3 separate regions of the Homo sapiens genome follow, and all the other regions are linked to region 3. The links come from fine-mapping of genetic effects on gene expression. A gene starts in region 3. Each other region holds a variant in brackets. All regions are shown on one strand. Distances are from middle to middle. Region 1 has its middle 22 kb from the start of DYNC1H1. Region 2 has its middle 16 kb from the start of HSP90AA1. Region 3 holds the start of ZNF839 (zinc finger protein 839).

What was found. PIP is the estimated chance that this variant, and not a neighbour inherited with it, causes the effect.
Region 1: its variant is fine-mapped to the expression of ZNF839 in whole blood (TOPMed, PIP above 0.99).
Region 2: its variant is fine-mapped to the expression of ZNF839 in whole blood (TOPMed, PIP above 0.99).

Annotation. Positions count from the first base shown.
Region 1 is chr14:101,936,752-101,947,569 of GRCh38, forward strand. No RefSeq gene overlaps it. Among named protein-coding and RNA genes, the nearest start is that of DYNC1H1, 22 kb to the right of the region's middle. RefSeq lists enhancers at 8,205-8,866, 8,867-9,526. The variant G/T (reference allele first, on the strand shown) is at 4,969.
Region 2 is chr14:102,065,344-102,076,161 of GRCh38, forward strand. No RefSeq gene overlaps it. Among named protein-coding and RNA genes, the nearest start is that of HSP90AA1, 16 kb to the right of the region's middle. The variant G/A (reference allele first, on the strand shown) is at 5,197.
Region 3 is chr14:102,314,890-102,325,707 of GRCh38, forward strand. It overlaps ZNF839 (zinc finger protein 839), which reads left to right and starts at 4,857. Exons shown (of 8, transcript NM_018335.6): 1 at 4,857-5,164. The coding sequence starts at 4,877. It overlaps TRI-AAT5-4 (tRNA-Ile (anticodon AAT) 5-4), which reads left to right and starts at 2,203; the gene lies at 2,203-2,276. RefSeq lists enhancers at 1,893-1,992, 5,367-5,476 and silencers at 4,917-5,016, 5,077-5,266.

The sequences.
Region 1 (10,818 bases), 380 kb before region 3:
CACAAGTTCAGGAGTTTGAGACCAGCCTGGCCAATATGGTGAAACCCTGTCTCTACTAAAAAAAATACAAAAATTAGGTCGGGCGCTGTGGCTCACACCTGTAATCCCAGCACTCTGGGAGGTTAAGGCGGGCGGATCACAAAGTCAAGAGATCGAGACCATCCTGGCCAACATGGTGAAACCCCATCTCTACTAAAAATACAAAAATTAGACGGGCGTGGTGGCGGGCACCTGTAGTCCCAGCTACTCGGGAGGCTGAGGTGGGAGAATCACTTGAACCCGGGAGGCGGGGGTTTCAGTGAGCTGAGATTGTGCCACTGCACTCCAGCCTGGGCAACAGGGCAAGACTCCATCTCAAAAAACAAACAAACAAACAAAAATTAACCAGACATGGTGGTGTGCACCTGTAATCCCAGCTACTTGGGAGGCTGAGGCAGGAGAATCACTTGAACCCGGGAGGCGGAGGTTGCAGTAAGCCAAGATCGTGCCACTGCACTCCAGCATGGGCAACAGAGCAAGACTCTGTCTCAAGAAAAAAAAAAAAAAAAAAAAAAAAAAAAAAGCTAAATTTCTCAAGATACTTGAGAAAAGATCTTTGGAATCATCTTCAGTCTGCCATACACGATGTACCAGAAATGCTCAGTCATTTATAGCCACACGTTTTCTATTTTTCACAAAGTGCCCTAGAATAAATAAATAAGAAGTGGCCAAGCTTGGTGGCTCACGCTTGTAATCCTAACACTTTAGGAGGCCGAGGTGGGTCGATTGCTTGAGGCCAGGAGTTCAAGACCAACCTGGCCAACATGGCAAGGCCCTGTCTCTTTAAATAAAAAAATATATATATATATATTTTTTTTTAAAAAAGAAGTACCCATGTTTTCCACAAGTTGACCTTGAAAAACTAGGGTGTAAAAAGTCAAATCTGGCTGGACACGGTGGCCCATGCCTGTAATCCCAGCACTTTGGGAGGCCAAGATGGGCAGATCCCCTTGAGCCCAGGAATTCAAGACCAGCCTGGGCAACATGGTGAAACCCTGTATCTACAAAAAAAATAAAAATTAGCCAAATATGGTGGCACACACCTGTAGTCCCAGCTACTCAGGAGGCTGAGGTGGGAGGATCACCTGAGCCTGGGAATTCAAGGCTGCAGTGAGCCAAGATTGCGCCACTGCACTCCAGCCTAGGCAACAGAGTGAGAACTTGTCTCAAAAAAATAAAAAATAAAATCCAACCCCCTTGGGTGAGGATTTGACCCAAATGAAGACAGTGAAAAGAATTTCGATCAACAGGTATCTGTGGGGTGGCACATGCGGGCACTGGGGCCTCAGTATGCCCTGGACAGCATCACCCTCTGGGTAGACAGAGTGGACGCCCACAGCATAGAGGGGTCAGTGCTGGCAGCATGGGCCACACTTGCCCACCCCCTCCCAGCCCAGTCCCTGAGATCTTCTTCACCCAGGAACTGACACCACCACCCAGCAGACTCATCAAGCCAGAAACCCGGAGGTTGGCCATGATTCCTCCCTTCCTAGGATTCTTAGATCCTAGAGATTGCACCTTAGCCCAGCCTTGCTCTCCCACCCCAGCCCTGCCCCTTCCCTAGTCTGCAGTGACAGCTTTCTCTCCAGAACGTGTTAAAATAGAGATCACGTCGCCCTCTTGCTTAAAACCCTCGAGTGGCTTCACATGGCACTTAAATAAAGCCTGAGCCCTCCCCATGCTGACCTCTGCAGCCATGGCCAGCTGTGCTCCCACTGGTCCATCACTGGTTTCTGCTTCTCACCCACCAACCTCCTTCCCGCCCCAGTGCCTTTGCACACGCTGTCACTGTCACTTCCTACTTCTAGCCCCCGAAGTGGCGGGGCTGACTGTTTTCAACCTGCAGGTCTAAAATGCAATGGTTTCTCTCGAAAGGGGCCTTCTCTGACCACTGTCCTGAAATTGGGAACCCCCCATCCCCTTACTCTCTGTCAGGGCACCCCATTTTCATCAGAGCCCTGGTACAATTTGTCATTTCATTTATTTCTTAGTAAAGTGCCTCCACTACAAGGCAAGGAGCTCATCTGCTTTTTCTTGGAGGTGTCTCCAGTGCCCAGCTCCATCCCCAGTGCAGACGGGACAGCTTGCTCAGCTTGTGAAGTGAATGAGGTGTGAAGAGCAGGATGCACATACGCAGTGACTGTGCCTGAAGAGGGCAGAGCCGTGGGAGAACACTCGCTCATCCCAATGTCTGTGGACCGTGCCAATAACGGCGGTGAACCCAATGCAGATGCCCCTGCTTCCATGTCCTGAGACAGTCCAGCAAGTCAGGTTCCATGGCAGGAAGCCAGCACCGCAGTGGGGAGAGGTTAGGGCACTGCAGGGAGGCTTCCCACTGGGCTTCCCCCAATGAAAGTGGAGAATGTCCCAAGCAAGAGGACCCGTGCAAAGACCCGAAGATGAGGGGGGCTGGAAGATTTGCCAGGGTTTGGCTCACAGAGTAGCAAAGAAAAACAAGGAAAAACTACTTATGACAATTATATACATACAGAAGGCTTCACAGGTAAATCAAATCTATCCATCCAACCTTTTTTTTTTTTTTTAAGATGGAGTCTCGCCCTGTCGCCCAGGCTGGAGTGCAGTGGCGCAATCTGGGCTCACTGCAACCTCCGCCTCCCGGGTTCACACCATTCTCTTGCCTCAGCCTCCCGAGTAGCTGGGGCTGCAGGCACCTGCCACCACGCCCGGCTAATTTTTTTTGTATTTTTAGTAGAGATGGGGTTTCACTGTGTTAGCCAGGATGGTCTCGATCTCCTGACCTCGTGATCTGCCCGCCTCAGCCTCCCAAAGTGCTGGGATTACAGGTGTGAGCCACCGCGCCCGGCCAATTTTTTGTATTTTTAGTAGAGACAGGGTTTCACCATGTTGGCCAGGCTGATCTTGAAATCCTGACCTCAGGTGATCTGCCTGCCTCAGCAGGCAGATAGAAAAAATATTTTTTTACAAAAGTAAAATAAAAAAAGAAACGTAATCCCCAGTGCAACAGTGCTGGGAAGTGTAGCCTTTGGGAGGTGACTGAGTCATAAGGGCTCTGCTCTCATGAGTGGGATTTGATGACCTTATAAAAGGGCTTGATGGAGACAGTCTGACTCTTTTCACCCCTTTGCCACGTGAGCACACAGAGTTCATCCCTTCAGGAGTGCACAGCAGTCAAGACACCATCTTGGAAGGTGGGGCCAGGCCCTCACCAGACAACAAATCTGCTGGTGCCCTGATCTTGCACTTCCAGCCTCCAGAACTGGGAGCAATAAAGGTCTGTTCTTTTTTTTTTTTTTTTTTCTGGAGACAGAGTCCCACTCTGTCGCCCAGGCTGGAGTGCAGTGGCGCATCTCTCTGCTCACCACAACCTCCGCCTCCCAGGTTCAAGTGATTCTCCTGCCTCAGCCTCCCAAGTAGCTGGGATTACAGGCATGCGCCACCATGCCCGGCCAATTTTTGTATTTTTAGTAGAGACGAAGTTTCACCAGGTTGGCCAGGATGGTCTCGATCTCTTGACCTCGTGATCTGCCCATCTCAGCCTCCCAAAGTGCTGGGATTACAGGCGTGAGCCACCACACCTGGCCAAAGTTCTCTTCTTTATAAATGACCCTATCTGTGGTATTTTGTTATAGCAGCACAAATGGACTAAGACAGACTGTCAAGGACACTAGAGACAATGTGAGGCTGAGGGGCTGTTCCTGACAGGAGGCTGACGAGTCATGGCAAGGAAGTGCCATGCACATTCTGGATAGAGAATAGGACAGAAGGGAAAGAAGACTTTGCGGGTATCTGGTGAAATGGAATGGAGTCTGATGTTGATTCACTTTTGTTTTGTTTTGTCTTAAGGCAGAGTCTCGCTCTGTCACCAAGCTGGAGTGCAGTGGCACAATCTCGGCTCACTGTAACCTCCGCCTCCTGGGTTCAAGTGATCCTCCCACCTCAGCCTCCTGAGTAGCTGGGATTACAGGTGCATGCCACCATGCCTGGCTAATTTTTGTATTTTTAGTAGAGACAGGGTTTCACCATGTTGGCCAGGCTGGTCTCAAACTCCTGGCCTCAGGCAACCTGTCCACCTCGGCCTCCCAAAGTGCTGGGATTACAGGCGTGAGCCACCGCGCCCAGCCAGATTCACATTGTTTTTAACAGTGTTGATTTCCTGACACAAGGTCCATAAGAAGGTCAAGTAGGAGAGGGTTCCTGTTTGTGGAGGTATACTCGGGGAATCAGGGCTGCTGGGGCATCAGACCAGATAAAGACAATATATGCATATGTCTATAAGAGAGAAGGTGGGCCTGGCGAGGTGGCTCACCCCTGTAATCCCAACACTTTGGGAGGTCAAGGCAGGCGGATCACGAGGTCAAGAGATCGAGACCATCCTGGCCAACATGGTGAAACCCCGTCTCTACTAAAAATACAAAAAAAAAAAAAAATTTGCTGGGCGTGGTGGTGCACGCCTGTAGCCCCAGCTACTCCGGAGGCTGAGGCAGAAGGATCACTTGAACCTGGGAGGTGCCACTGCACTCCAGCCTGGGTGACAGAGCAAGACCCTGTCTCAAAAAAAAAGGATAATCACATAAGAGACATTTTGGTGATTAGGGAACAGAAACAGAGCCCTGCTGTAGAGGACTGGTCAGAAGAGGAGATTTTATTTTTATTTTTATTTATTTTTATTTATTATACTTTAAGTTCTAGGGTACATGTGCACAACATGCAGGTTTGTTACACGTGTATACATGTGCCATGTTGGTGTGCTGCACCCATTAACTCGTCATTTACATTAGGTATATCTCCTAATGCTATCCCTCTCCCCTCCCCCCATCCCACGACAGGCCCCGGTGTGTGATGTTCCCCACCCTGTGTCCAGTTGTTCTCATTGTCCAATTCCCACCTATAAGTGAGAATATGTGGTGTTTGGTTTTCTGTCCTTGTGACAGTTTGCTCAGAATGATG[G/T]TTTCCAGCTTCATCCATGTCCCCACAAAGGACATGAACTCATCCTTTGTTATGGCTGCATAGTATTCCATGGTGTATATGTGCCACATTTTCTTAATCCAGTCTATCATTGATGGATATTTGGGTTGGTTCCCAGTCTTTGCTATTGTGAATAGTGCCGCAATAAACATATGTGTGCAAGACTAATAAAGAAGAAAAGAGAGAAGAATCAAATAGATGCAATAAAAAATGATAAAGGGGATATCACCACCGATCCCACAGAAATACAAACTACCATCAGAGAATACTATAAACACCTCTACGCAAATAAACTAGAAAATCTAGAAGAAATGGATAAATTCCTGGACACATACACCCTCCCAAGACTAAACCAGGAAGAAGTTGAATCCCTGAATAGACCAATAACAGGCTCTGAAATTGAGGCAATAATTAATAGCCTACCAATCAAAAAAAGTCCAGGACCAGACGGATTCACAGCCAAATTCTACCAGAGGTACAAAGACGAGCTGGTACCATTCCTTCAGAAACTATTCCAATCAATAGAAAAAGAGGGAATCCTCCCTAACTCATTTTATGAGGCCAGCATCATCCTGATACCAAAGCCTGGCAGAGACACAACAAAAAAGAGAATTTTAGAAGAGGATATCTTAAAAGAAAGCAAACACTGGAACATATCTGTGTGTGATGGGGACAAGCCCATGCAGTGTTTATGAAGGGGACGGGCAACTCGAAGCCAGAGCTCAAGGGAGGGTTGGTCTTAAACAGGAGCAGAGAATCCATTTTAACAGAAGGCAAAAAAAAAAAAAAAAAGATTTAAGGAGCAAATGCAGGTAAATATATAGATTTGGGGTGGGTTGGATTAAGGAGTTGCCCTCTGATACCCTCGAGTTTCTCCGCAAAGTATGAATGTTCAAGTGAAGATTTGATCAAGAATTTAAAGTGAAACCAGTGGCATGCTTCTCTGTGGCCACACTGGGGTAGGGAGGCTGGGGGAATGGAAGACCCAGAACTGCTGCCCACCTGTGTGTGCCCCCTTCCCCAGGACTGAGGTTTTCCTCAGTGACTGGCACCATTTGCCCTGTACATGTCCTTTCAAGGGAGACTATGGGTGATGACCCAGAATTGACAAGAGGTAACTGGCATTTCTCCTTCTAAAGGGATGCTGGGGGAACTTTGTTTCCTCCTACAGCACCTCCCCGGGAAAGCATCCCTCTAAACTGTGACGAGGCATGAAACAGGTAATTACCATAATATTCAACAGAGCTGTGACAACGAAAAGTCCCAAACTCTGGGGGGACCCACATCTGTACAACTTTCTAGCTCAGGCGGGCTCTAGGGAGGAGTTTCTTTTCTTTCTTTTTAATTTTTTTTTTTTTTTTTGAGATGGAGTCTCACTCTGTCACCCAGGCTGGAGTGCAGTGGCGTGATCTCTGCTCACTGCATTCTTCTGCCTCAGCCTCCCGAGTAGCTGGGACTACAGGTGCCCACCACCACGCCCGGCTAATTTTTTGTGTTTTTAGTAGAGACGGGGTTTCACAGTGTCAGCCAGGATGGTCTCAATCTCCTGACCTCATGATTTGCCTGCCTTGGCCTTCCAAAGTGCTGGGATTACAGGCGTGAGCCAACGCGCCCAGCCAAGTTTCTTTTCTTTTTATGAGACGGGTCTCACTCTGTCACCCAGGCTGGAGTGCAGTGGCACGATCCTGGCTCCATGCAACCTCCGCCTCCCTGGTCCAAGCGATCCTCCCACCTCAGCCTCTTGTGTGGAGGGACTACAGGCACACACCACCAGGCACAGCTAATTTTTATATTTGTTGTAAAGACATGGTCTTTGCCATGTTGCCCAGGCTGGTCTCAAACTCCTCAGCTCAATCGATCCGCCCTCTTTGGCCTCCCAAAGTGCTGGGATTACAGGTGTGAGCCACTGCACCCAGCCAAGAAGAGTTTCTTGATGTCAGAGTGGAGTTGCAATTTCAGCTCCATTTGCCTCTCAGTGGTCTCATCCGTGGAAAGGAGATAATAATTCCCAAGACTAAACCAGGAAGAAGTTGAATCCCTGAATAGACCAATAACAGGCTCTGAACTTGAGGCAATAATTAATAGCCTACCAACCAAAAAAAGTATGTCTTCAGGAGGATCATGTAAAGCAGGCAGAGGAAGCTCAGCAGATGACACCTGCTGTCATTAATATCATTGTCCTATCCCCATTTCACACTGAGAAAAAGGCTCTGAGAGGGAAAGGGGTCCACTGAAATTAGCAGCCCTGGCTGGGCACCGTGGTTCATGCCTGTAATCCCAGCACTTTGGGAGGCCGAGGAGGGCAGATCACCGGAGGTCAGGAGTTCGAGACCACCCTGACCAACATGGAGAAACCCTGTCTCTACTAAAAATACAAAAAATTAGCCAGGCATGGTGGCACATGCCTGTAATCCCAGCTACTTGGGAGGCTGAGGCAGGAGAATCACTTGAACCTGGGAAGCGGAGGTTGCAGTGAGCCGAGATCACGCCATTGCACTCCAGCCTGGGCAACCAGAGCCAAAAAAAAAAAGAGGCTGAGCGCGGTGGCTCACACCTATAACCCCAGCTCTTAGGGAGGCAGAGGCGGGAGAATAGCTTGAGCCTAGGAGTTCGAGACCTGCCTGGGCAATATAGCAAGACCCCGTTCTCCACAAAAAGGAAAAAAAAAAGACAAAATAAAAAAAGAAATTAGCAGCCCTGGTGGGACAAGAGATTCCAATGGTAGTGGGGAAGATGGGAGGAAAGAGCATTTTAGTTTATTGTTGATGGCTACGCAGATTTGTACAACTCTTTGGAAGGGTAATTAGGTAATGTTTAAAATGTTTAAAATGCTAAACATTTAAAATGTCTAAAATGTCATACCTTTTGACTCTGCAATTCTGCTTCTAGGAATTTAGCCACCAGCACTTGCACAAAAGAATGACAGCTACAAGCCCAAGAATGCTCATGACAGCATCATTCTCCATAATGAAAAAGACATAGAAGCCGTGAAGAAATTACTAAATGAATAAAAGTGCATCCTGGCCAGGCATGGTGGCTCACACCTGTAATCACGGCACTTTGGGAGGCCGAGGCAGGCGGATCACTTGAGGTCAGGAGTTCAAGATCAGCTTGGCCAACATGGTGAAACCCCATCTCTACCAAAAAAAAAAAAAAATACAAAAATTAGCCGGGTGTGGTGTCATGAACCTGTAGTCCCAGCTACTCGGGAGGCTGAGGCAGGAGAACTCCCTGAACCTGGGAGGTGGAGGGTGCAGTGAGCCAAGACTGTGCCATGGCACTCCAGCCTAGGCAACAGAGGGAGACTCCATCTCAAAAAAGGAAAAAAAAAAAAAGTGCACCCTGAGAACTGCAGACCTCTCAGCACATGACAACTCCATTCTAACCTCTGCACTAAGAGATGACCAAAGAGTAGCATGCTTCTAGAAGCACAAGTTCCTAGGATGATCCCAGCACCCCCGTTACAATGCCTGCCAGAGAAGCTCAATGATGCCAGAAGAATTTACTATTTGTTTTAGCCAACACCTAATGAAAGACTCCTGGGCCCTCCCTTTGAGCATTTACTAAAAATGGCTTGCAAATACGAATCCCGCCTCTATCCCTTTGAGATGTATATCTATCTCCTTCAGCTCAGGAGTGTCTTTCTTTAGGACCTGAAAGCCGTCCTTTTGAAATGTAATCATGAGGAAGGTTAGACTCCTCCAGTCTCTGTGGGAAGACAGAATCCTAACTTCTATAATTGACAGCTGGGCTAATCACATGACATTGACCAAGCCTTTGTGATTTTTCACTGGAGTCCCTTCTTTCGCAGGTATCCCCTTTGTTTCCTCCATCCCTCCTGCCTTCTTTCTTTCCCATTATCTTTCTCCCCTGTTTTAACCACTTGTAAATTCTCACCTACCTGAAGTGTTGCTAAGTTTTCTTTTTTTTTTTTTTTTGAGACGGAGTCTTGCTCTGTCGCTTAGGCTGGAGTGCAGTGGCGCGATCTCGGCTCACTGCAGCCTCCACCTCCTGGGTTCAAGCCATTCTCCTGCCTCAGCCTCCCGAGTAGCTGGGACTACAGGTGCCCGCCACCACGCCCGGCTAATTTTTTTGTATTTTAGTAGAGACGGGGTTTCACCGTGTTGCCCAGGCTGGTCTCCAACACCTGAGCTCAGGCAATCCGCCCACCTCGGCCTCCCAAAGTGCTGGGATTACAGGAGTGAGCCACCGCGCCCGGCTGACTGTTGCTAAATTTTAATCAGAGGTGGGAGGACCGTAAAGATTGAGTCTACCTCCCAATTTACAGATGGACAAATTGAGGCCCAGAAAGGTTCCCACACATGTTCAGAATTCTACATCCAGCCTCTGTTCTGGCTGTTCTCTTTCCGCCTCTGGCTGCCCAACTCCCTCCTGCCCTTGCACCCCTAACATTAACAGCCAGAGGGATCTTACAAAAACACCCATCTGATCCATTCCGAACACTGCCTAGCAACCACCATTCCGGAAATCAAATCGCTGCCCCGGCTACCTTCTCTCCTCTTGTGACAGGTCAAATCTTACCCAGGAGCCTTCCAACGTGCTATTTCACATCTTGCCCTGACTTGGCTTTTTTTTTTTTTTTTTTTTTTCCCCCGAGACAGAGTTGCGTCTTGCTCTGTCGCCCACGCTGGAGTACAGTGGCTCCATCTCGGTTCACTGCAACCTCCGCCTCTCGGGTTCAAGCGATTCTTCTCCCTCAGCCTCCCAAGTAGCTGGGATTACAGGCACCCGACACCACGCCCGACTAATTTTTGTGTTTTTAGTAGAAATGGGGTTTCACCATGTTGGCCAGGCTGGTTTTGAACTCCAGACCTCGTGACCCACCTGCCTCGGCCGCCCAAAGTGCTGGGATTACAGGCGTGAGCCACCGCGCCCAGCCCTGACCTAGCTATTGACTGCTTATCCTGGAGTCTAGGATCTCTCTGGTGCCAGATCTGAGACGCCCGCAGCCTCTCCCCTATCTCCAACCTGTCTCCCCCGCTAGATCGTGAGCTCTGTGGGAACATTGCCCAGGCTTGTCTTGTTCACCAACGTGCTTCCAGTGCCTGGCACTGTGCTCAACCCCTCCACGCCCTCGCTCAAACTCAATCGATGTTTGATAGAAAGATGAAGAGAGATTTGTTCGGTCAGAGAGAACAGCATGATGACAGAAGGAAGGCGTACAATCAAAAGCTGTGTGCAGGGCCAGGAGCGGTGGCTCACGTACTCCCAGCACTTTGGAAGGCCTAGGCGGGAGGATCACTTGAGCTCAGGAATTCAAGACCACCCTGGGCAACATGGCGAAACCCCGTCTCTACAAAAAATACAAAAACTAGGCCGGGCGCAGTGGCTCGCGCCTGTAATCCCAGCACTTTTAGGAGGCCGAGGCAGTCAGGAGTTCGAGACCAGCCTGGCCAACATGGTGAAACCCCGTTTCTACTAAAAATACAAAAATTAGCCGGGTGTGGTGGCGAGCGCCTATAATCCCAGCTACTCGGGAGGCTGAGGCAGGAAAATCGCTTGAACCTGGGAGGCGGAGGTTGCAGTAAGCCGAGATGGCGCCACTGCACTCCAGCCTGGGCGACAGAGCAAGACTCCGTCTCAAGAAAAAAAAAAAAAGAAAAAAACCACTAGCCGGGCGTGGTGACGCAGGCCTGTAGTCCCAGCTGTTCGGGAGGCTGAGGCAGGAGGGTCGCTTGAGCCCGTGAGCCGAGATCGCGCCACTGCACTCCAGCCTGGGCGACAGAGCGAGACCCTGTCTCAAAAATTAAATAAATAAATAAATAAATAAATAAAGGTGTGTGCAGGTAACAGCAAGTAGTCTTAAAAGAG
Region 2 (10,818 bases), 250 kb before region 3:
AAACCCCTGACCTCAGGTGATCTGCCCGCTTTGGCCTCCCAAAGTGCTGGGATTACAGGCATGAGCCACCATGCCCAGCCTAATGTTTTATTTTTTGTAGAAACAGGGTCTTGCTATGTTGCCCAGGCTGGTCTTGAACTCCTGGGCTCAACCAATCCTCCAGCCTCAGCCTCCCAAAGTGCTGGGATTACAGGGTGAGCCACTGGCACCTGCCACACTCTTGAAGGAGTCATATCCTCGCTCCCATGGAGGGGGGACACCCCCATCCTCTATGTGTGAGGAGGAGTCCTCACTTCCCCGGGTGGGCCAGACTGCTTCGGGCCTCTCTTGGCACTGGGGGCCTCTTCTTGATGGTGACAGCCCCTCCAGCGGCCCGCACACCTGGCTGGGGGCACCTGGGCACACTCGCACCTAGCACGTCTGCACCATCTGCACCGAGACCCGGGCTAGGCCAGAGCTTCCTCTGTTCCCAGAAAAGCAGCCCCAAATTCAGCCCGGTGTAGCAAATAATTGGTCCATGATCTCCGACTATGAGCAGAGCGTGTTGTTACTCAAGCTGGGGCCATTGTGAATCTGGGCTCAAGATCAATTTGGCCCTGGGGGTGACATTTATATAAAGTCTTTGAGGCTGAGCCTCCAGGGCCATCAGAGGGCACAGGGCTGCCACTCTGCACTTACCTCTTGGATGGGATGTCCATTTTGTTCCCAGAGTGATCACCCAGGAGTTAAGGGTGGCGGGGGTCCTGCGGTCCAGCCTGTATGATGTTGCTGTCTCCACGGCAACCCAGCACGGAAGGGCCCCGCCAGCCCGCCCAGGACCTCCCCCGCAGGCCCCGCTGCTCCTCCATCCCCCTGCCTGTTCCCTGCCAGCCCTGCCCATAGCCCAGGCCCCAGTAAGGCTCCTCAGATTCCTCCTGTCCGCCCTGGGCCCACTCTGGGCTCCACTCACTGCCAGAGAGGCCTCTGTGAGGTCGTGATTATGCCACAAAACTTTGGGGAATTCCCCTATGCCCTAGGATGACATCCAAATCCTTTAACATGGCCACAAGGGCCCACGCTGCCCCGGCCACCCAGCAACCCCCTTTTCAGTCCCTATCTGAGAACCTTTCACCCCAAGGCTGCAGCGACTCCCACCTCCTCTCATTCCTGGGAGGCACCAAGCCACCTTTCCTTCCAGCCACCCACAGCTCTTTCTTTTGCCAAAAATGCTCCCTTCACCCTCATCCCTGGCCCTGACTTAACCTTTGGGTTTGACACCTCCTCCAGGGAGCGTTCCTTGACCTCTCAAGTCTTTGTTAGGATCCAGCCAACCCCTCTGCACTACCACAGTAGGCCAGACCAGCCTGTGTAGAAAGTATCTGTTGATTTCTTTCTTTCTTTCTTTTTTTTTTTTTGAGACAGAGTCTCACTCTGTCGCCCAGGCTGGAGTGCAATGGCGCTATCTCGGCTCACTGCAACCTCCACCTCCCAGGTTCAAGCAATTCTCTCCTCCCTCAGCCTCCCAAGTAGCTGAGACTACTACATGCGTGCGCCACCACACCTGGCTAATTTTCTGTATTTTAGTAGAGACGGGGTTTCACCATTTGCCCAGGGTGGTCTCAAACTCCTGAGCTCAAATGAGCCACCTGCCTTGGCCTCCCAAAGTGCTAGGATTACAGGCATGAGCTACTGTGCTCTGCTGTGTCGGTTGAATTCTATGATGTTACTATACTGTCACCCTCTGAGCCTAGAAATTCTGAACCCTCAGCTCCTTAAGCACCTAGTGCAGTGTCTGGCACAGTAACCTTCAAAAAAATTTTTGAACGAATAATAAAAGGAATCAGTGAACTGAATCTGCCACAAGTCATGTTAGCTGCTCAGTTTTTTTTCTTTTTTCTTATATTTTTTTTTTGTTGTTGTTGTTTTTTGAGACAGAGTCTTGCACTGTCGCCCGGGCTGGAGTGCAGTGGTGCAATCTTGGCTCACTGCAAGCTCCGCCTCCCAGGTTCAAGTGATTCTCCTGCCTCAGCCCCCTGAGTAGCTGGGATTACAGGAGCCCGCCACCACCCCCAGCTATTTTTTTTTATTTTTAGTAGAGACAAGGTTTCACTATGTTGGCCAGGCTGGTCTCGAACTCCTGACCTCGGGATCTGCCTGCCTCAGCCTCTCAAAGTGCTAGGATTACAGGTGTGAGCCACCAGGCCTGGCCTCACTTTTTTTTTCTTAGTAATGTTTGAAGTCAGGAAGTGTGAGTCTTACTACTTTGTCCTTTTTCAAGATTGGCTTTTCTGGGTTCCTTAACATTTTCTTTTCCTTTTTTTTTTTTTTTTTTGAGACAGAGTTTTACTCTGTCACCCAGGCTAGAGTGCAGTGGTGCGATCTCGGCTCACTGCAACCTGCACCTCCCAGGTTTAAGCAATTCCCCTGCCTCAGCCTCCTGAGTAGCTGGGATTACAGGTGCCCGCCACTGCACCCATCTAATTTTCGTATTTTTTAGTAGAGACAGGGTTTCACCATCTTGGCCAGGCTGGTCTCAAACTCCTGACCTCATGATCCACCTGCCTTGACCTCCCAAAGTGCTGTGATTACAGGCGTGAGCCACCATGCCTGCTTCATTTTCATATAAACTTTATAACCAGCTTGTCAGTTTCTGCACAAAAATGCCAGCTTTTTTTTTTTTTTTTTTTTTTTTTTTTTTTGAGATGGAGTCTTGCTCTGTCACCCAGGCTGGAGTGCAGTGGCGTGATCTCGGCTCACTGCAAGCTCTGCCTCCCGGGTTCACGCCATTCTCCTGCCTCAGCCTCCCGAGTAGCTGGGACTACAGGCGCCCGCCACCACACCCGGCTAATTTTTTGTATTTTTAGTAGAGACGGGGTTTCAGTGTGTTAGCCAGGATGGTCTCAATCTCCTGACCTCGTGATCCGCCCACCTTGGCCTCCCAAAGTGCTGGGAAATTGTTAATAGGGATTGGGTTGCATCTGTGGATCAGTTTGGGTGGTATTGCTTATCTCCACAACATTAAGCCTTCCGATCCATGAACATGGTATGTCTTTCCATTTTAGTTTGTCTTTAATTTCAACAATGTTTTGTAGTTTTCAATACACAGTATAAAAAGTCTTGCATTCCTTTTGTTAATTTTATTTATTTATTATTATTATTATTACTTTTTCTTTGAGACCCACTGTGTCACCCAGGCTGGACAGTGAGTAATCCTAGCTCACTGCAGCCTTGACCTCCTAAGTTCAAGCAATCCTCCCACCTTGGCCTCCCAAAGTGCTGGAATTACAGGCATGAGCAACCAAGCCTGACCTAATTTTATTTTTAAATCTTTTATTCTTTTTGGTGCTATTGCAAATAAAAATGTTTCTTTATTTTCAGATCACTCATTGTTAATGTATAAAAATACAATTGATATTTATATATTAATCTTGTATTTTTTTTTTTTTTTAGTAGAGACAGGGGTCTCACTATGTTACCCAGGTTGCTCTTGAACTCCTAGGCTCAAGTGATCCTCCCACCTTGGCCTCCCAAAGTGCTGGGATTACAGGTATGAGCCATCATGCTCGGCCAATCTTGTATCCTAAAATCTTGCTGAACTCATTAGTTCTATAGATTTGTGTGTTTGTAATCCTTAGGAGTTTTTATATACAAGATCATGTCATTTACAAATGCAGATACTTTTTACATTTTCCTGTCCAATCAGGATATCAGGATGTCTTTTCTTTTTCATGACTAATTGCCCCTGGTTAGAACCTCCAGTACAGTGTTAACTAGAAATGACAAAAATGAACATCTTGACTTGTCCTTGTTCACTCACTTAATCGTACATTTAATTATAGTACCAAGTGCCTTGAATATGTCTGAGTGCAGAGATGTAGTAGGGAAAATACTTATGGGTGAAATGGTACAATGAAATCTCAGAATTGCCTCAGAATGACTTGGAGAAAGAAAGAAGGGTGCATTGAGTGTGGATGGGTGGGAATGGCCATGGCCAGTTGGCTGGTTGTTGGGGATGGTGATGGTCACTAAGGTTTCATACTATTCTGTCTGCTTTTGTGTACTTTTTTTTTTTGAGACAGAGTGTTGCTCTGCTGCCCAGGCTGGAGTGCAGTGGCACGATCTCTGCTCACTGCAACCTCCATCTCCCAGGTTCAAGCGATTTTCCTGCCTCAGCCTCCCAAGTAGCTGGGATTACAGGCACCCGCCACCACACCCAGCTAATTTTGTATTTTTAGTAGAGACAGGGTTTCACCAGGTCGGCCAGGTTGGTCTCGACTCCCAACCTCAAGTGATTCGCCTGCCTTGGCCTCCCAAAATGCTAGGATTACAGGCATGAGCCACCATGCCCGGCAACAAGAGTTGTTTAAATGGCACTTATTTGTGGAAGACACCAAGCCAAATATCCCACACATCTGGATTTGTCCGCCTGCTTCCTCAGAGTGTCATTTAGCACGTCCCTTTATCCCCTTATTTCCTATTAACTCAAATTACCAAGATAGTCTCCTGTTTTGAGACATGTAGATATTTTCAAATTCCCCTGCTACAGGGTTGTGGAGAACATTCTTGTACCTTTCTCCCGGTGCAAGTGGAAAGACTTTCTCTAGCACGTACCAGGAAGTACTCAGGGTGAGTTCTCCCACTCCATCAGATGTGCCAAATTGCCCTCCAGATTAACTGTATTGATCTGTACCCCCATCAGGTCACATGAGAGACCCCATTTTCAGACCATAGCCAACATTTGGTACTGTCCTCCTTTAATTTCTGCCATTCCTGATGGGTGTAAAATGCATCTTCTTACACTCACTTTCCCTTTCATGACTTGCAGTGCGGTTGGGCATCTTCTCTTACGTGTGTTGCCCTTCCAGGCTAAGGAAGGAGACTGAGACAGCAGAAACCACAGGATTCAGGAACTGCTTAGAAATGGTACCAACTGGTTTTATTAAAAGGGAAAGTGTTTGGCCAGGAGCGGTAGCTCACGCCTGTAATCCCAGCACTTTGGGAGGCCAAGGCAGGCGGATCATGAGGTCAAGAGACGGAGACCATCCTGGCCAACATGGTGAAACCTCTAAAACTTCTACTAAAAATACAAAAACTAGCTGGGCGTGGTGGCGCACACCTGTAGTCCCAGCTACTTGGGAGGCTGAGGCAGGAGAATCTCTTGAACTTGGGAGGCGAAGATTGTAGTAAGGTGAGATCACACCACTGCACTCCAGCCTA[G/A]TGACAGAGAGACTCCACCTTAAAAAAAAAAAAAAAAAAAGGGAAATTGTTGCCAGCCGTGGTGGTGCGCACCTGGAATGCCAGCTACTCAGGAGACTGAGGCAGGAGGACTGCTTGAGCCCCAGAGTTTGAGTCCAGCCTGGGCAACATAATGAGGCCCTGTCTCAAAAAAAACCGCACAAAATAAGCAGGGGGTGGAGGGCAAAATAGCATACTTTTCTATATCCACCACAAATGCATTCAGATGTTAAATGTTTTATTGATTTTCATTCTAATGTGTTTTCTGTTATTTTTATTTTTTAGTAGAGATGGGGTTTTACCACATTGCTCGGGGCTGGTCTTAAACTCCTAACCTCAAATGATCCACCCACCTCAGCCTCCCAAAATGCTGAGATTACAGGTGTGAACCACTGCGCGCGGCCTGTTTCTTGTTTTTTGAATTTTTTTTTTTTTTGAGATAGAGTCTCACTCTGTCACCCAGGCTGGAGTGCAGTGGTGCGATCTTGGATCACTGCAACCTCCACCTCCCGGGTTCACACCATTCTCCTGCCTCAGCCTCCCAAGTAGCTGGAACTACAGGCGCCCACCACCATGCCTGGCCAATTTTTTGTATTTTTAGTAGAGATGGGGTTTCACCGTGTTAGCCAGGATGGTCTCGATCTCCTGACCTTGTGATCCACCCGCCTTGGTCTCCCAGAGTGCTGGGATTACAGGCGTGAGCCACCGCGCCCAGCCTGTTTTTTGAATTTTAACCTGGCATTAAAAAAACAAGAGTGCTTCTTTTTGGACTGCATTTCGAGTTCTGGAACTTTCATTGATCAAGTGTTGAGGCCTAAAACGCTTTCATAAGAAGATGATTGATGTTCCAAGCAAAAACGTACACTTGGCAGATAGCGTGTTCAGCTCACTTGCTCTGCACTAACATAATGGCATCTTTGTTCAGATTTTGGTGGTGCTATTAATACACCGTGACTCATTAAAAGCCCCACTTCCTGGAATGTTCTTCTCAGGGAGGTGATGTGACATTCCCTCCTATGGAGGAAGAATCTATAATCACACTTTCAAAGTCTTGAGCAGATCTTGAAGGCTTAGCAAAGGGAACAAAAGCTTCCTAAATTATACAGAATTATTTAAACAAATTGTCATCCCCACAGGAAGGGGGAAAACATCATTTGTACATACCACTTCTTCACTCAGGCCACAAATACGTATCAGGTGTTTGCCACATGCACCAATTTAGCAGTGAACACTCACGCCTTCCCTCCTGGGCTGACAGGCAGCAGAGAGACAGGAAGACTGACCTGAAACGAATGGTCATTTCCTTATAGTTGCATAATGCTACAAAGAAAGGTAGAAGACGCAAGGAGAGTGTATGCGGGGCTTATGTTATGTCAGGAAAATATTTTCTGAGACCAGATAATGGAAGGATTATCTGGGGCCAGATAGTGGAAGAGTGGAAGGATTTAGCCTGGTGTGGGGGGACATGGAGACCATCTCAGGCAATTGGTGGCTTACCGGGTACAGAGTTGTTGTTGGGGGAATGAAAAAGTTTTGGAAATAGTAATGATAGTTGCATAATGTTGTGAAGGTAGTTAATGCACTGGACTGTACACTTAAAAATGGTTTACAATGGTCAGTTTTATGTTACAGGCCGGGTGTGGTGGCTCACGCCCATAACCCCAGCACTTTGGGAGGCCAAGGTGGGCAGGACACGAGGTCAGAAGTTCGAGACCAGCCTGGCCAATATAGCAAAACCCTGTCTCCACTAAAAGTACAAAAATTAGCCGGGCGTGGTGGCAGGTGCCCATAATCCCAGCTACTTGGGAGGCTGAAGAAGGAGAATCACTTGAACCTGGGAGGCGGAGGTTACAGTGAGCCGAGGATCGCACCACTGCACTCCAGCCTGGGCGACAAAGCAAGACTCTGTATCAAAAAAAAAAAAAGTTACATATATTTTACCACAATAAAAAAAATACAAAAAAGCTGGGCGCGGTGGCTCACACCTGTAATCCCAGCACTTTAGGAGGCTGAAGTGGGTGGATCACGAGGTCAGGAGTTTGAGACCACCCTGGCCAACATGGTGAAACCCTGTCTACTAAAAATACAAAAATTAGCCGAGCAGGGTGGCTGGCGCCTGTAATCCCAGCTACTTGGGAGGCTGAGCCAGGAGAATCACTTGAACCTGGGAGGCAGAGGTTGCAGTGAGCTGAGATCACGCCATTGCACTCCAGCCTACGCAACAAGAGCAAAACTCTGTCTCAAAAAAAAAAAAAAAAAAAAAAAAAGAGAAAGAGAAATCATTCCAGGCAGAGGAGCTCTGTTGTCTGGTGTGTGAGGTCTTAGAAAGAGACGTCAGTTTTTTTTTTCTTTTTCTTTTTTCTTTTTTTTGAGACAGAGTCTTGCTCTATGCCCAGGCTGGAGTGCAGTGGTGTGATCTCGGCTCACTGCAACCTCCACCTCCCAGGTTCAAGTGATGCTCCTGCCTCAGCCTCCTGAGTAGCTGGGATTACAGGCACCTGCCACCATGCCCAGCTAACTTTTGTATTTTAGTAGAGATGGGGTTTCACCATGTTGGTCAGGCTGGTCTTGAACTCCTGACCTCAGGTGATCCACCCACCTCGGCCTCCCAAAGTGCTGGGATTACAGGCATGAGCCACTGCAGCGGTCTGTCAGTTTTGAGTTGCCCAGCGCTGAATCCCCCTCCTACATTCTGGGGACTCCCCAACCTCACGAGGCCAGATGGGAGGAAAAGGCCATGAAAAGACCAGACACCGGTTTTCCCAGCCTCTCTTGCAGCTAGGACACAGGCTAGGCTCAGCCAATCACATTTTGAATGGGGTGTTTAAATGGGGCAGCTGGTGTGGGGAAAAGCCAGGGTCCAGGGACAATCTATTTTGGAAGCGGGTAGGGGAAGATATAGTCTGTCTACCTCTTACTTGCTGTGTGACCACTCTGATCTTCAGTTTCCTCATCTATCAAAAGGAATTGATAAACGATACCTTCTTCGTAAGATTCTAGACTCAAATGAGACCTCATTAATGTAATTGTTGCAGCTGACTGGTGGGCACCTGTCGGTTCATAAAACAATTCCTGACCAGGTGCAGTGGCTCATGCCTGTAATCCCAGCACTTTGGGAGGCCGAGGTGGGTGGATCACCTGCCATGCTGGTCAGGAGTTCAAGACCAGCCTGGGCAACATGGAAAAACCCCATCTCTACTAAAAACACAAAAAATTAGCCAGGTGTGGTGGCAGTGCTTGTAATCCCAGCTACTTGGGAGTTTGAGGCAGGAGAATAACTTGAATCCCAGAGGCAGAGGTTGTAGTGAGCCAAGGTCACGCCACTGCACTCTAGCCAGGGCGACAGAGTGAGACTCTGTCTCCAAAAATAAATAAATAAATAAATAAACAAAACAAAATATACATAACATGAAGTTTACCATTTTAACCTTTTTTTTTTTTTGAGACAGTGTCTGGCTCTGTTGCCCAGGCTGGAGTGCAGTGGCGTGATCTCAGCTCATTGCAAGCTCCGCCTCCCAGGTTCACACCACTCTCCTGCCTCAGCCTCCTGCGTAGCTGGGACTACAGGCGCCTGCCACCACACTCAGCTAATTTTTTTGTACTTTTAGTAGAGACGGGGTTTCACCTTGTTAGCCAGGATGGTCTCGATCTCCTGACCTCGTGATCCGCCCGCCTCGGCCTCCCAAAGTGCTGGGATTACAGGTGTGAGCCACCGCACCCTGCCCATTTTAACCATTTTTAAGTCTGCAGTTCAGTGGTGGAGATATCCACATTATTGTACAAACATCATCACCATCCATCTTCAGAACTTTTTCATCTTCCCAAATGAAAACTGTTCCCATTAAATGCTAACTCTCCCTTCCCTCCTCCCCAAGCTTGGGCAACCAGCATTCTACTTCCTGTCTCTCTGAATTTGCCTACTCTAGGTACCTGAGGTAAGTGGAATCATACAGTGTGTGTCCTTCTGTGACTGGCTTATTTCACTTAGTACAATGTCTTTAAGGTTCATCCATGTCGTAGCATGTGTCAGAATTTTCTTCCTTTTTAAGCCTGAATAATATTCCATTGTATGCATAGACCACATTTTGTTTATCCGTTCATCTTGAGTAAATCCCAAGGAGTGGAATCCCTGGATCATGTGGCAATGCTATGTTTAACATTTTGAGGAACAGCCAGACTGTTTTCCAAAACAGTATCATTTTACATTCCTACCAGCAGTGTACCTATGAGGGTTCCAATTTTCCACATCCTTGCCAACATTTGTTATTATCTATCTGCTTCTATTTTGTATGTTTTGGAAATCTCCCAAATAAATAGTTTATAAAAAAGAGAAAATTAGCCAGGCGTGGTGAAGTACGCCTGTGGTCCTAGCTACTCAGGAGGCTGAGGCACAAGAGTTGCTTGAACCTGGAAGGTGGAGGTTGTGGTGAGCCAAGATGGTGCCACTGCACTCCAGCCTGGGTGACAGAACGAGACTCAGTCTCAAAAAAAAAAAAAAAAAAAAAAAAAAAAAAAAATTAGAAACTGTAAGTGAAAGTGTAAACTATGAAGTGCTTAGGTTAATTTGTTATTTGTTAGCATAGATTTGTGTGCCTGTCATGTGCCAGACACTGTTATGAGTATTTGGGATACAAACATAAGCAAAACACACACACATCTGTAGTCTTAAACTCAAGACTGGGCCTATCTGCTCCTCCAGAACCCCTTCCCTGGAAGCAGAGCTGAGCCTAGGACATCCATCCCACTCCCCAGGCCCTGCCCAGCTCTTGGGCATTTGGGAGGTGTCGGGGTGCAGGAGTAGAAGTCTGATGCCTGCACCGCAGCCCTGGCCTCCCTTAGCCCAGAGAGCCCTGCGTGTTCTCCACTTCCAGAGCTTGTTTTTCTTATCTATAAAATAAAGTGGGGCCGGGTGCAATGCCTCATACCTGTAATCCCAGAACTTTGGGAGGCTGAGGCAGGAGGATTGCTTGAGTCCAGGTGTTCAAGACCAGCCTGGGTAATACGATGAGACCCCACCCCCACCCCCCACCCCATCTCTACAAAAAATACAAAAATTAGTAATTAGCCGGGCATGGTGGCACGTGCCTGTAGTCTCAGCTGCTTGGGAGGCTGATTTGGGAGGATCGCTTGAGCCTGGAAGGTCAAGGCTGCGGTGAGCTGAGCTTGTACCACTGCACTCCAGCCCAGGCAACAGAGCCAGACCCTGTCTCAAATAATAAAATATAAAATAAAATAAGGCAGGTATGGTGGCTCACACCTGTAATCCCAGCACTTTGGGAGGTGGAGGTAGGCAGATCCCTTGAAGTCAAGAGTTCAAGACCAGCCTGGCCAATATGGTGAAACCCTGTCTCTACTAAAAATACAAAAATTAGCTGGGTGTGGTGGCACATGCTTGTAATCCCAGCTTCTTGGGAGGCTGAGGCGCGACGACTGCTTGCATCTGAGAGTCAGAGGTTGCAGTGAGCCAAGATTGTGCCACTGCACTCCAGCCTAGGCAACAGAACGAGACTCTGTCTCAAAAACAAAACAAAGCCGGGCGCGGTGGCTCATGCCTGTAATCCCAGCACTTTGGGAGGCCAAGGCGGGTGGATCACAAGGTCAGGA
Region 3 (10,818 bases):
GAAAGGCGCAGGTCCGGTGGTGTCTTTCAACGGGATGTTACCCTGGGCGTAGGGTTGTCAGATACAGCACATGTATTCTTTTAGTATAAGTATGTCCCAAATATGGCGTGGGACATACTTACACTAAAAAAAGTTTCATTGTCCTTTTGCAATTCAATTTTAACCCGGCATCTTGATCTATATTTGCTAAATTTGGCAGGCCTGTTAGGGCTGCAACAAAAGGAGAGAGTGTGAGCAGAGAAATGACTTGATCTGACTGTTTTAAACCCATGTGACTCTTACCTATTGCTATGCCAGAGAGTGTGCTAGGTTCTGGGCATTCATTCAGCTGTAAGCAAAATGGACAGGATGCCTGCACCCCCACCAGTGCTCTGTGAGAGGGCTTTACCCCTTTGGCCTGCTCATCTATCCTTGTCCTTTGGACACAGTAAAGTGCTCCAGACTTCAGGACGCTTGCCCAGCCTCCCAGCACACCACCTAATCTTCTCCGTTCCCTATAATATCCGCCTTCCTTGTTATGCGGAGAGCTCCATCAGGATGGGGATTAGGTTTCTTTGACTCACAGCTGATTGGGGGCCAGGGCACTGCCGGGCTGAATGAGTATGTCTTCACTGAGTGTCCGTTTTTCTAAACCTGGTCCTCTAGCCTTACTCGTGGAGGGTGACCTACCTAACATCCTTTACATAAAATCTTTTCGAATCAGCTAGACTCGGTTTCTGCTGCTTGTGACATAGAACCCTGACGATACCTCAGTCCAAGCAGTTTAGTGGAGTAATCAGAGCAGAATGTATAATGTTAAAAAGCTGGCCCGATGCGGTGGCTCACGCCTGTAATCCTAGCACTCTGGGAGGCCGAGGCAGGCGGATCACTTGAGGTCAGGAGCTCGAGACCAGCCTGGCCAACATGGTGAAACCCCATCTCTACTAAAAATACACACACACACACACACACACACACACACACACACACACACACACAAAGTAACCGGACAAGGCGCGTGCCTGTAGTCCCAGCTACTTGGGAGGCTGAGGCAGGAGAATCGCTTGAACCCAGGAAGCAGAGGTTGCAGTGAGCTGAGATTGCACCACTGGACTCCAGCCTGGGTGACAGAGCGAGACTCTGTCTCAAAAAAAAAAAAGCTGGTGCTCCTGGAGTGGGAGGGCCACGCAGCACACCATAGTCAGGCCCTGTAGGAGAACAGTAGGCCTCTGGGACATGCAGGCTGGGTGGTGGACACGGTGGTGGTTTGTCTTCCCAGCCTTTTCTTTCTCTCTCTCTTTTTTTGCATACAGATCCTACGCTTTTAGGGGTGGGTACCATCGTTGCCTACTCAGTGGCTGTTTCAACCCTTCTGCCTGTACCATGTGATTTATTTATGTGCTCAGTTAACAAGAGAGAGAGCAAAATGAAAACATTTTTACAGACACTAAAAAAAAAAAAAAAAAAAAAAGGAGAAAGCCATGGTGGTTTGTCCACTCAATGAAACACTGAGAAATCATTTAAAGTGACATTTGCAATTGTTTAGGGATATGCTTATTCTAGAATATTAAATGCAAAAAGAAAGATAAAAAATAGACTGCTTCATTGAGCCGAAATCTCGCCACTGCACTCCAGCCTGGGCGACAGAGGGAGATTCCGTCTCAAAAAAAAGACTGCTTCATACAAGGCTTTGGATTCCGTGTGTGTGTGTGTGTGTGTGTGTGTGTATAAATACACGTGTACTGTAGGAAAAAAAACCAGCAGGAAGGAAGCCAAGACCCCAGCGGCCCTTGTTTATTGGGCGATAGGGAATTCGGTGGTTCTTTTGTCCGGTTTTCTGTATTTTCCAAGCTTGATTTAACCATGCTAAAGGCCTCTGTTACACGAAGTTTCCACGCTGCAGGATTCTCGGAGATAAAAACAACACTGAGTTGGCATGTTTGAAAACCTTCTCACTGCGGAGCTAAGCCTCCCATGTGCAATTTGCATTTTTCCTGTGAAAAAAAGCCGCCTTCGCTGTAGGGAGTCGCCTCCCTTCTCCTTGAAGTCCCCTAAGTCTTAGTTTCTGCATCGGGCCAATGGGGATGACTGTGAAGAGGTCGGAAGTCGCGGCTGTGGCGAAGCGGAATGCAGCCAGCGGCGCCGGCCCGGCAGGGAGTCGCTAGGGGGCGGGCGCGGGCTTGGAGCCCTCTTAGGCGCTCCCGTGGGGGCCCAACGTCAGGCGGCCGGTTAGCTCAGTTGGTTAGAGCGTGGTGCTAATAACGCCAAGGTCGCGGGTTCGATCCCCGTACGGGCCAGGCTAACTTTTTTTTTTTTTTTTTGGTCCCCGCAATGTTCCTTTCTGATACTGTAACCGGCGTGCAGGCAGGAGAGAACTGCGGAATCTTTTGGACTGGCCCAGAGGTTATCCAAGGCTACCTGCTGGGGAGAGCGGGAGGAACTCAGAGCGCGCTGGGGCGGTGGCTCCTCACCCCGAGTCCCCGCGCCGCCACCTGAAGGGTCTGTTTTAGAATGCCATTGGTTAGGCCTTTTACTTTTGTCGTTTTAAAGGACACTCTGGACATCCAACCGATGCACATCCCACGCCCCCACCCCCCACGTTTCCTGAGGCTGCGTCTGGCCTGGAGGAACCGCCCAGTGAAGACAGGTGCTCGCAGATATCACCGCCTAGTGTTCCCTGGGCCCACTTGCGGGGAAGTCTTGGAGGTGAAAATCCAGGTCTGGAATGAATGCATTCCACAGATGCATATGGAGAGCTACTGCATGCCCAGCACCATTCCTAGGCTGGGAGCAAAACGGTGAGACACAAACCCCAACCCGCTGGAGACAGTGACCAGCCACTAGATGACTGCCATGTTTTTAGTGAGGCATTCAGGTTGTGGAAGCCTCTGGAAACCTTCTCTTGCTTTTTGTCCCCCCTCTTTTCTTTTCGGAGACATCTTAGGCTTCACATTTCTTCCTCTTGGTTCTACATTTTGAAGCCAGAGCAAGTGGATGAATTTCTCACTCGGTTCGTTTCTAGGGTGGTCAGGTGTGCTCAGCTGAACAAAAGCCGGTTGTATAAGGTTGATGCCATTTTATGTCAGGATCCGGCAAGGGCTCCACCTGTTTTTGAAAATTCTACAGTGGAAACAGCTACTAGTTCTGACCTAAATAAGAAGCAGCTCAACATCTACAGACCTTGGTATGTGCCCAGGGTGTAGTAAAAGTTCTCAATAAATGCCAGCCGATGGCGCTGCTGCTATTATAAGCAAAGTTAGGAGAGCCTGGGGCAGCTGACACTTAAAATAGACATCTGTACACAGGATGGATGTCACATCTTTTAATAGTCGTGCCAGGCACGTTGTTAGATGCAGGGACACAGCATGGAGGAATCGGTGGAGGTTGCTGCCCTCAAGTTTCCTGAGCTTGAAGGGGTTTAGAATATGCCACGGTGGCATGAAAATTATTTTGAGCAGAAGGCATGTGAATTCCTGAAATCTGGTCGGGTGTGGTGGCTCACACCTGTAATCTCAGCACTTGGGAAGGCCGAGGCGGGCGGATCACCTAAGGTCAGGGTTTCAAGACCAGCCTTACCAACATGATGAAACCCCGTCTCTACTAAAAATACAAAAATTAGCCAGGCATGGTGGCGGACGCCTGTAATCCCAGCTACTCAAGAGGCTGAGGCAGGAGAACCGCATGAACCCAGGCGATGGAGGTTGCGGTGAGCTGAGATTGTGCCACTGCACTCCAGCCTGGGTGACAGAGTGAGATCTTGTCTCAAAAAAAAAAAAAAATTGTGGTAAGATACCCATAATATAAAATTCACCATTAAAAAATAACACGGAAGGGATCATCGTGAATGCAATGTGAGTATTGATGAGGATGGTGGTGATCTTCCAGAACCTTCTCTGACGCCACCCAGGCCGCCAGCCTTACTTTACCGGCTTCGGCGCTCATCATACTGTGCTGCAAATGCCAGTTTCCTCCTTCCCCCTTGGGAAGTTTCCTCCTTGGGGGTCGGCACCTAGACTGTATACCCCCCAGGGCGGAAACAGCGGTTCACCCACCAGGTGCTTAAGAAGGGTTTGTGGACCAGTGGACCTCCTGCTCTCCCTGGGGAAAGGAGCTGGGACATGTGTACACACCTGCAGCTACAAGATTCGGAGGGCGCACAGAGCCTCAACCGTAAGAAGGAGAGGCGATCAGGCTGAGGAAGATGGGGCAGTGGAGCTGGATGGATAGAGAGAGGGTGGGTTCATTCATTCGTTCACTCATTCGTTTATTCATATTCATCCATCCATCATTCATGCCCTGAGCGTGCGTTGTGTTCTGGGCAGGGCCTGTGCTGGGCACCGATTGTGTAATATATCATCTCTCCCTTCAAGGTGCACCCAATCTGGGTGGGTGGGTAGAGAGAAGCTACGGTGACAAGGCAAAAATTTGGGAAACACTCTCGTTAACAATTCAAACTGTGGTCCCCTCCCAGATGTATAAATCCAAATGTTTAGGGGTGGGCACAGTACTCTGCATCTCCAGACAGCATCCTCCGCTGATTCGGATGCATGATGACGTCAGAACACTTGGATATTGTGGTAACTTTTGGGCCAGGGGCTCTGAAACCCCGAAGACCTCCCCCTGGGAGATCCGGGACAGCTCCCAGAGAAGGTGAGTCTTAAACACATCCGTGACAGGCAATAAGGAAAATAAGGGGGGTCCGCTCTGCTGATCAGCCCTAAGAGCCGCGGCGGTTGTCGGCTGGGGCGGGGCACTCCACGACTTTCCCGGCCAGACACGGTCGCCTTCCTAGGTGTCTTGGCCTGCGAGGCACTCGTAGCCCGCCCCTCTCCTAGGTGACGTACATTGGAGACGCCGTCGCTCAGCGACCCGGGTTCGAGTCCCCGCCTCGGCCGCCATGGCGGATGCGGAGCCGGAGGCTGGGGGCGGCAGCGAGGATGGCGGCGGCGGCGGCGGCCCGGCTCCTCCGGGCCAGAGCGGCAGCGTCGCACGTGTGGCCCCGCTGGGCCCCGAGCAGCTGCGGCAGGTCCTGGAGCAGGTGACGAAGGCGCAGCCGCCGCCGCCGCCGCCCCCCTTCGTGCTGCGGGACGCGGCGCGGCGGCTGCGGGACGCGGCCCAACAGGCCGCCCTGCAGCGGGGCCGGGGCACCGAGCCCCCGCGCCTGCCGCGCCTGCTCCCGCCCCAGGTGAGGCGTCGGGAGGGACGTGGGGAAACTGAGGCCCGAAGGGGGCCGACGCCCCGCGGCGGGGTAGCTGCTTGTCCGGGGAGGCCAGTATCCGCCCGGGTTAAGACTCAGGGCGTCCCCAGGCTGAGCTTCTTAGGGACGGCGTTCGGCCCCCACCTGTCACCACCCTGGCATTTTCACCCCAGGAGCCTCACTCTAGGAGCGGTTGCTCACGCTGGGCCCTGTGCCTGGAACGCCCTCGTGCCTTCTCTGCCTTCACAGCCCTGCTGGGGGCTTTTGCGTGCTCCCTAGCTCTTCTTACAGGCCTTTCACCGCTGGTTCAGCCTTTGTGGAGCACTTAGAGACCGTGTTCCCAGCACTCCCCACTATGTGCAGGAGGTGAAGCCTTGAACACACTTGCTGAAGAACGAACATAAGGCAGGTTCTGGGATTGACGGGGGCTGCTTTAGAGTGGGTGGTCCCGTAGGCCAGACACTGGAGCTGAAACATAAATGAATTAAAAGGAACCAACTTAGCTTTTCAGTTGTAAGGTGCCAAGGCCCAGGCTTGGAACAAAGTCAAGCACAATACACTAGTTCGCTGCAGGACTTAACATCCTGGGTGATAGTGACTGATTTGTAACCGCAGTACCCAGCACAGTGCCTGATACACAATGTTTGGAATATGTGAAAGCACTCTGTATACTACAAAACATCCTTTCCCAGTGGGTTTATTTCCTGGGCCACACACCTTTTGGTTGCTAGGGGGGTGATAACTAGAAGACGGTCGCCCAACTCCGGAGGGTGAAGCATAGCGCCTGAAGCCAGAGGGCCTACACGGCATCTGTAAAATTCCACCCCATTTCAGCGCTGGGGTTGTAAACAAAATTAGTCTCACCCCAAAATTGCCAAAAGAAGACAGCTTTTTCCACTAGAAGAAACGGGTTAGGGAATAGAATCAGGAACCTTCACTCGTTGAGTTTTTTTGACTGATGTTAGCTGCTTAGGGTTGTATCCAGTTAATCATCAAGACTGGAGAGTTGTCTTGCTAAGGTTTAGGAAGACCAGTGTGATTCTGTCCAGATGCCACACTATCACTATCTAGAGGTGTGACCTTGGGTAAGTCAACCTTTTTGGACTTTGGTCTGGGTCAGAAGGCTGCAAGGTGCCATCTGGGGGCAGCTATCTGCAAAGCCTCTGCTCTGCGCCCGGCGCTGTGCGGGGCCGCTCAGTTTTCAGCAGTGTTTTTGTACCGGCATTTTGCAGGTGGGAAACAAGCTCAGGGAGGTTGCGTGGCTTTGCCCAAGGTCCCTCAGGTGTGGCTGCTCTCCCTAGCCCCTGTACTCCTCACCATACCCTGCTGAATATGGCCACAGCTTTTTGGGTTTGGAATCCAAAAATGACATATTTTTCGTAAAGCAAAAGCAAACTTATTCGAGCTTAGGCAGCATGATGGGATTGTATTTTGTAGCTAATCTAATGGAGACGATATAAATTCTACCTGCAATAATATACCTTTGCAGCACATTCTTTTAATACTCTTTCAGCCCCAGCTGTGTCATGGAGGCCACAAAGGCAAACCGGATGCGTACTTTGCCCCTCAGTAGTTTATGAACTAACAGGAGATGAAACAAGACCCAGATAACTTCTAGTCAAGGCCAGAAAGCTAAAGATAGTGAAAAAGAACTGAATGTATTTAGAGAAAGGGAGATTGTTCCTGGCTGAGGACATCAGAAGCAGCTTTGTTGAAGAAGTGGTATCTGAACTAGATTTGAAAGGGTGCGTCTGAGTTGAAAATGCAGAAGGGGAGAGGCAGGTTCTGGGGCGGTTGGGGGTGCATTTCAACAACCACAGCAGAAGGCCCAGTGTTCGCTGTGGGGGTGGTGTGGATCAGCAGCACAGACCAATGGACACACTTGGGTCAGATCGAGGCCCCTGTCTCTCCCCATCCTCCCTCTTCCCCACCCCACAGAAATTTCCAGTTCCATCCAACATGCTGTGCCCCTTTTCATGCATCCGTGCATTTACACATGGATGTGTGCCCTTTTTCACCTGGCAAAAATTCCCAGCCTTCAAAATGCCCCTCAGAGATCACAGCTTCTGGGCAGCCCACCACCTCTGGGCTGTTCCTGCCTCTTGATTGCACCTGTTGTACCATGATGACATTTTTCCTGTCTGCCTCACCTGTCTGCATTCCTTAGGGAAGCTTGTCTGCCTTCAGAATCATCAGTGGAGCTTTTGAAAGGGCAGATCTTGGGGCCTCACCCCAGGAGATCCGATTCAGCAGGTCTGCGGGGACTGAGGTATGGCAGGGGAAACCGCCCCCATCTCAAGGGTGAGGTTAGGACTTGGCTCCTGTGTATGTATTCCACCCAGAAATACTGAGTTAACATTAGCTGAATTAACTAAACAAAGTATCAAGCATAATACCCACAGGGTAAGCCAGTGAGGATAGAGGATAAATACATTATTAGTCTGGCTTTGCCGCTGTGGTTATCCTCAAACAGTAGGGTTTAGTGTATGTATGTATATGTATTATGTTTTTGTTTTGGGGTTTTGTTGAGACAGGGTCTTTCTTTCTCACCCAGGCTGGACTGATCTCGGCTCACTACAGCCTCGAACTCCCAGGCTCAAATGATCCTCACACCTCAGCCTCCCGAGTAGCTGGGGCTACATGTATGCACCATCATGCCTGGCTAATTTAAAAATGTTTTGTAGAGACAGGGTCCCGCTATGTTACCCAGGCTGGCCCTGAACTCCTGGCCTCAAGCAGTCCTCCCGCCTCAGCATCCCAAAGCACTGCGATTACAGGTGTGACTGGCAGTAAAATGAAAGAGATGGGGTTCTTGAAGGATATGCGCAGTCAATCTCGTTGTCATTTGTTTCACAAGTAGCCCAGGAGTCGGGGACTCCCAGGGCTATGGTGCCACCTCTCTACAATTCTTCATACAAAGTGTTGGCTGACCTCTGCTATTTGTACTAGTATAACAGACAGACGAGAGACACACTCCAGCTTGATCTCAGTGAGGATCTTTATTCTGTCCTGTGTGACATTTTTGTTGATGCTCCACTGTTTGAGGGTCACACCAGAAGGTTGAGTCCAAAGAGGGCCAGTTGGTCGTCCCAAATAAGTGATTCTCAACCGAGGGCAGTTTTGCCCCACAGGGGGCACTTGGCAATGTCTTCATTGTCAGGACTCGGGATCACTACTGGCATCTAGTGGGTAGAGGCAGAGATGCTGCTGGCCATCCTCCAGCCACCCATGTCAAAGGATTATGTTCTGAAATGTTGGTTGGGAAATCGTGCTCTGGATGATGAGGTTTGCCTCTTTTTCTCCCTGGAGGAAAGTGCTCATTATTTCTGCTCTGTGAGGGCGGGAGCCTTGTTTCTTTTGCTTCCCCGTCCTTCTCCCCTAAGCTGTAAGACAGCTGTTTCCCTGACACCTGTAACAGTGTTTCTGGCACGCGGTCAGTGCTCAATAAATATTTGTGGGGTGTTATTGAAGGTAGTTCTCCCCTTTGGTAGGTGTTTTGCTATTATAGACAGTGCTGCCCTGAACTTCGTAGAACAGAACATCTTTGTGGCCACCTGCGTGTTTTTTTTATAGAATCCAGGAAATGGAATTACTGGGTCAAAAAGCACATGTATTTGAAATTTTGTTAGATATATTTGTAAAAAGTTATTGAAGATACTCAGCCCTACGCCTAGGTACATGCCCCTGGAGAAAGTCACACATGTATACACATACATCGTGAAGATTCAGAGCAGAACTTAGGAACAGAAGGTTGGAAACCACCTGTCCATCAATAGGAGACTGGTGTACTCATACTGCAGAGAAAATGAACCCGTGACACCTACCCATGTTAATGTGGATAAAATTCACGAAGCAAAATGAAGTAAAGAAACCCAGAAAAGCCCTTTCAAGTTGCAGGAGATGATATCATTTATATAAAGTTTAAAAACATTTCAGAACTGAACTATATATTTTTAGAAATATCTGCATATGCCACATAAATTTTTAAAATCATAAGAATGCTAAACAGCACATTCAGGACAGGGTGAAGAAACAGGCATGCAGGTTGTGCAGTAGGAAGCTGGGTAACATTGTTCCTTATGGCTTTGTTGTCGCTTCCAGAATTTCATTAAAAACTTTTTAAAAAACATGGGCCCACATTATGAATTACGTCTGCTTTTAGAGTACTAAAAACTCCAAGCAAAAACACATGGGTAACGCCGGGCACGGTGGTTCATGCCTGTAATCTCAGCACTTTGGGAGGCTGAGGCGGACAGATCATGAGGTCAGGAGTTTGAGACCACCCTGACCAACATGGTGAAACCCCGTCTCTACTAAAAATACAAAAATTAGCCAGGTGTGGTGGCAAGCGCCTGTAATCAGGGCTACTCAGGAGGCTGAGGCAGGAGAATTGCTTGAACCTGAGAGGCAGAGGTTGCACTGAGCTGAGATAGCGCCACTGCATTCCAGCCTGGACCACAGAGCGAGACTTCATCTTAAAAAAAAATTAGCTGGTCATGGTGGCACACACCTGTGATCCCAGCTATTCAGTAGGCTGAGGCAGGAGAATCATTTGAACCTGGGAAGTGGAGGTTGTGGTGGCACTCCAGCCTGGGCGACAGAACGAGACTCCATCTCAAAAAAACAAACAAACAAAAAGCCAGCCGGGTGTGGTGAGGCAGGTGGATCGCCAGAGGTCAGGATTTCGAGACCAGCCTGAATGGTGAAACCCTGTCTCTACTAAAAATACAAAAATTAGCCGGGGCGTGGTGGTACGTGCCTGTAATCCCAGATACTTGGGAGACTGAGGCAGGAAAATTGCTTGAACTCGGGAGGCGGAGGTCGCAGTGAGCCAAGATAGTGTCGCTCCACTCCAGCCTGGGCGACAGAGCAAGGGTCCGTCTCAAAAGAAAAAGAAAAACCTCACATGGGTAAAACTGTTAGGAAGGCTCTTATCTCTTCACTGGTCATGAAATCAACTTAGTGGATTATGACTAGTATTTTTTAAAAAGTGATGTAGAATAGGGCTGGGCGTGGTGTCTCACGCTGGAAATCCCAGCACTTCGGGAGGCCAAGGCAGGTGGATCAATCACTTGACGTCAGGAATTTGAGACCAGCCTGGCCAACATGGTGAAACCCGTCTCTACCAAAAAATACAAAAATTAGCTGGGTGTGGTGGCAGCTACTCCGGAGGCTGAGATGAGAGAATCGCTGAAACTGGGAGGCAGAGGTTACAGTGAACTGAGATCGCACCACTGCACTCTAGCCTGGGTGACAGAGTGAGACCCTAATCTCAGAAAAAAAAAAAAAAAATGATGTAGAATAGATACAATCAGCGGGCATTTATATAGGGATGGTAAGTAGTTCCATCAACTTTATTTTATTTATGTATGCAGATATTTATATACACGTGTACTAGGTCATAATGTAAAATGTATCATTGTGGTCTCTGTTTTTGTTTTTGTTTTTTTCAGATGGAGTCTCACTCTGTTGCCCAGGCTGGAGTGCAGTGGTGCGATCTCAGCTTACTGCAACCTCCTCCCGGGTTCAAGCGATTCTCATGCCTCAGCCTCCTGAGTAGCTGGGACTACAGGAGTGCATCACCACGCCCAGCTCATTTTTGTATTTTTAGTAGAGATGGGGTTTCACCATGTTGGCCAGGT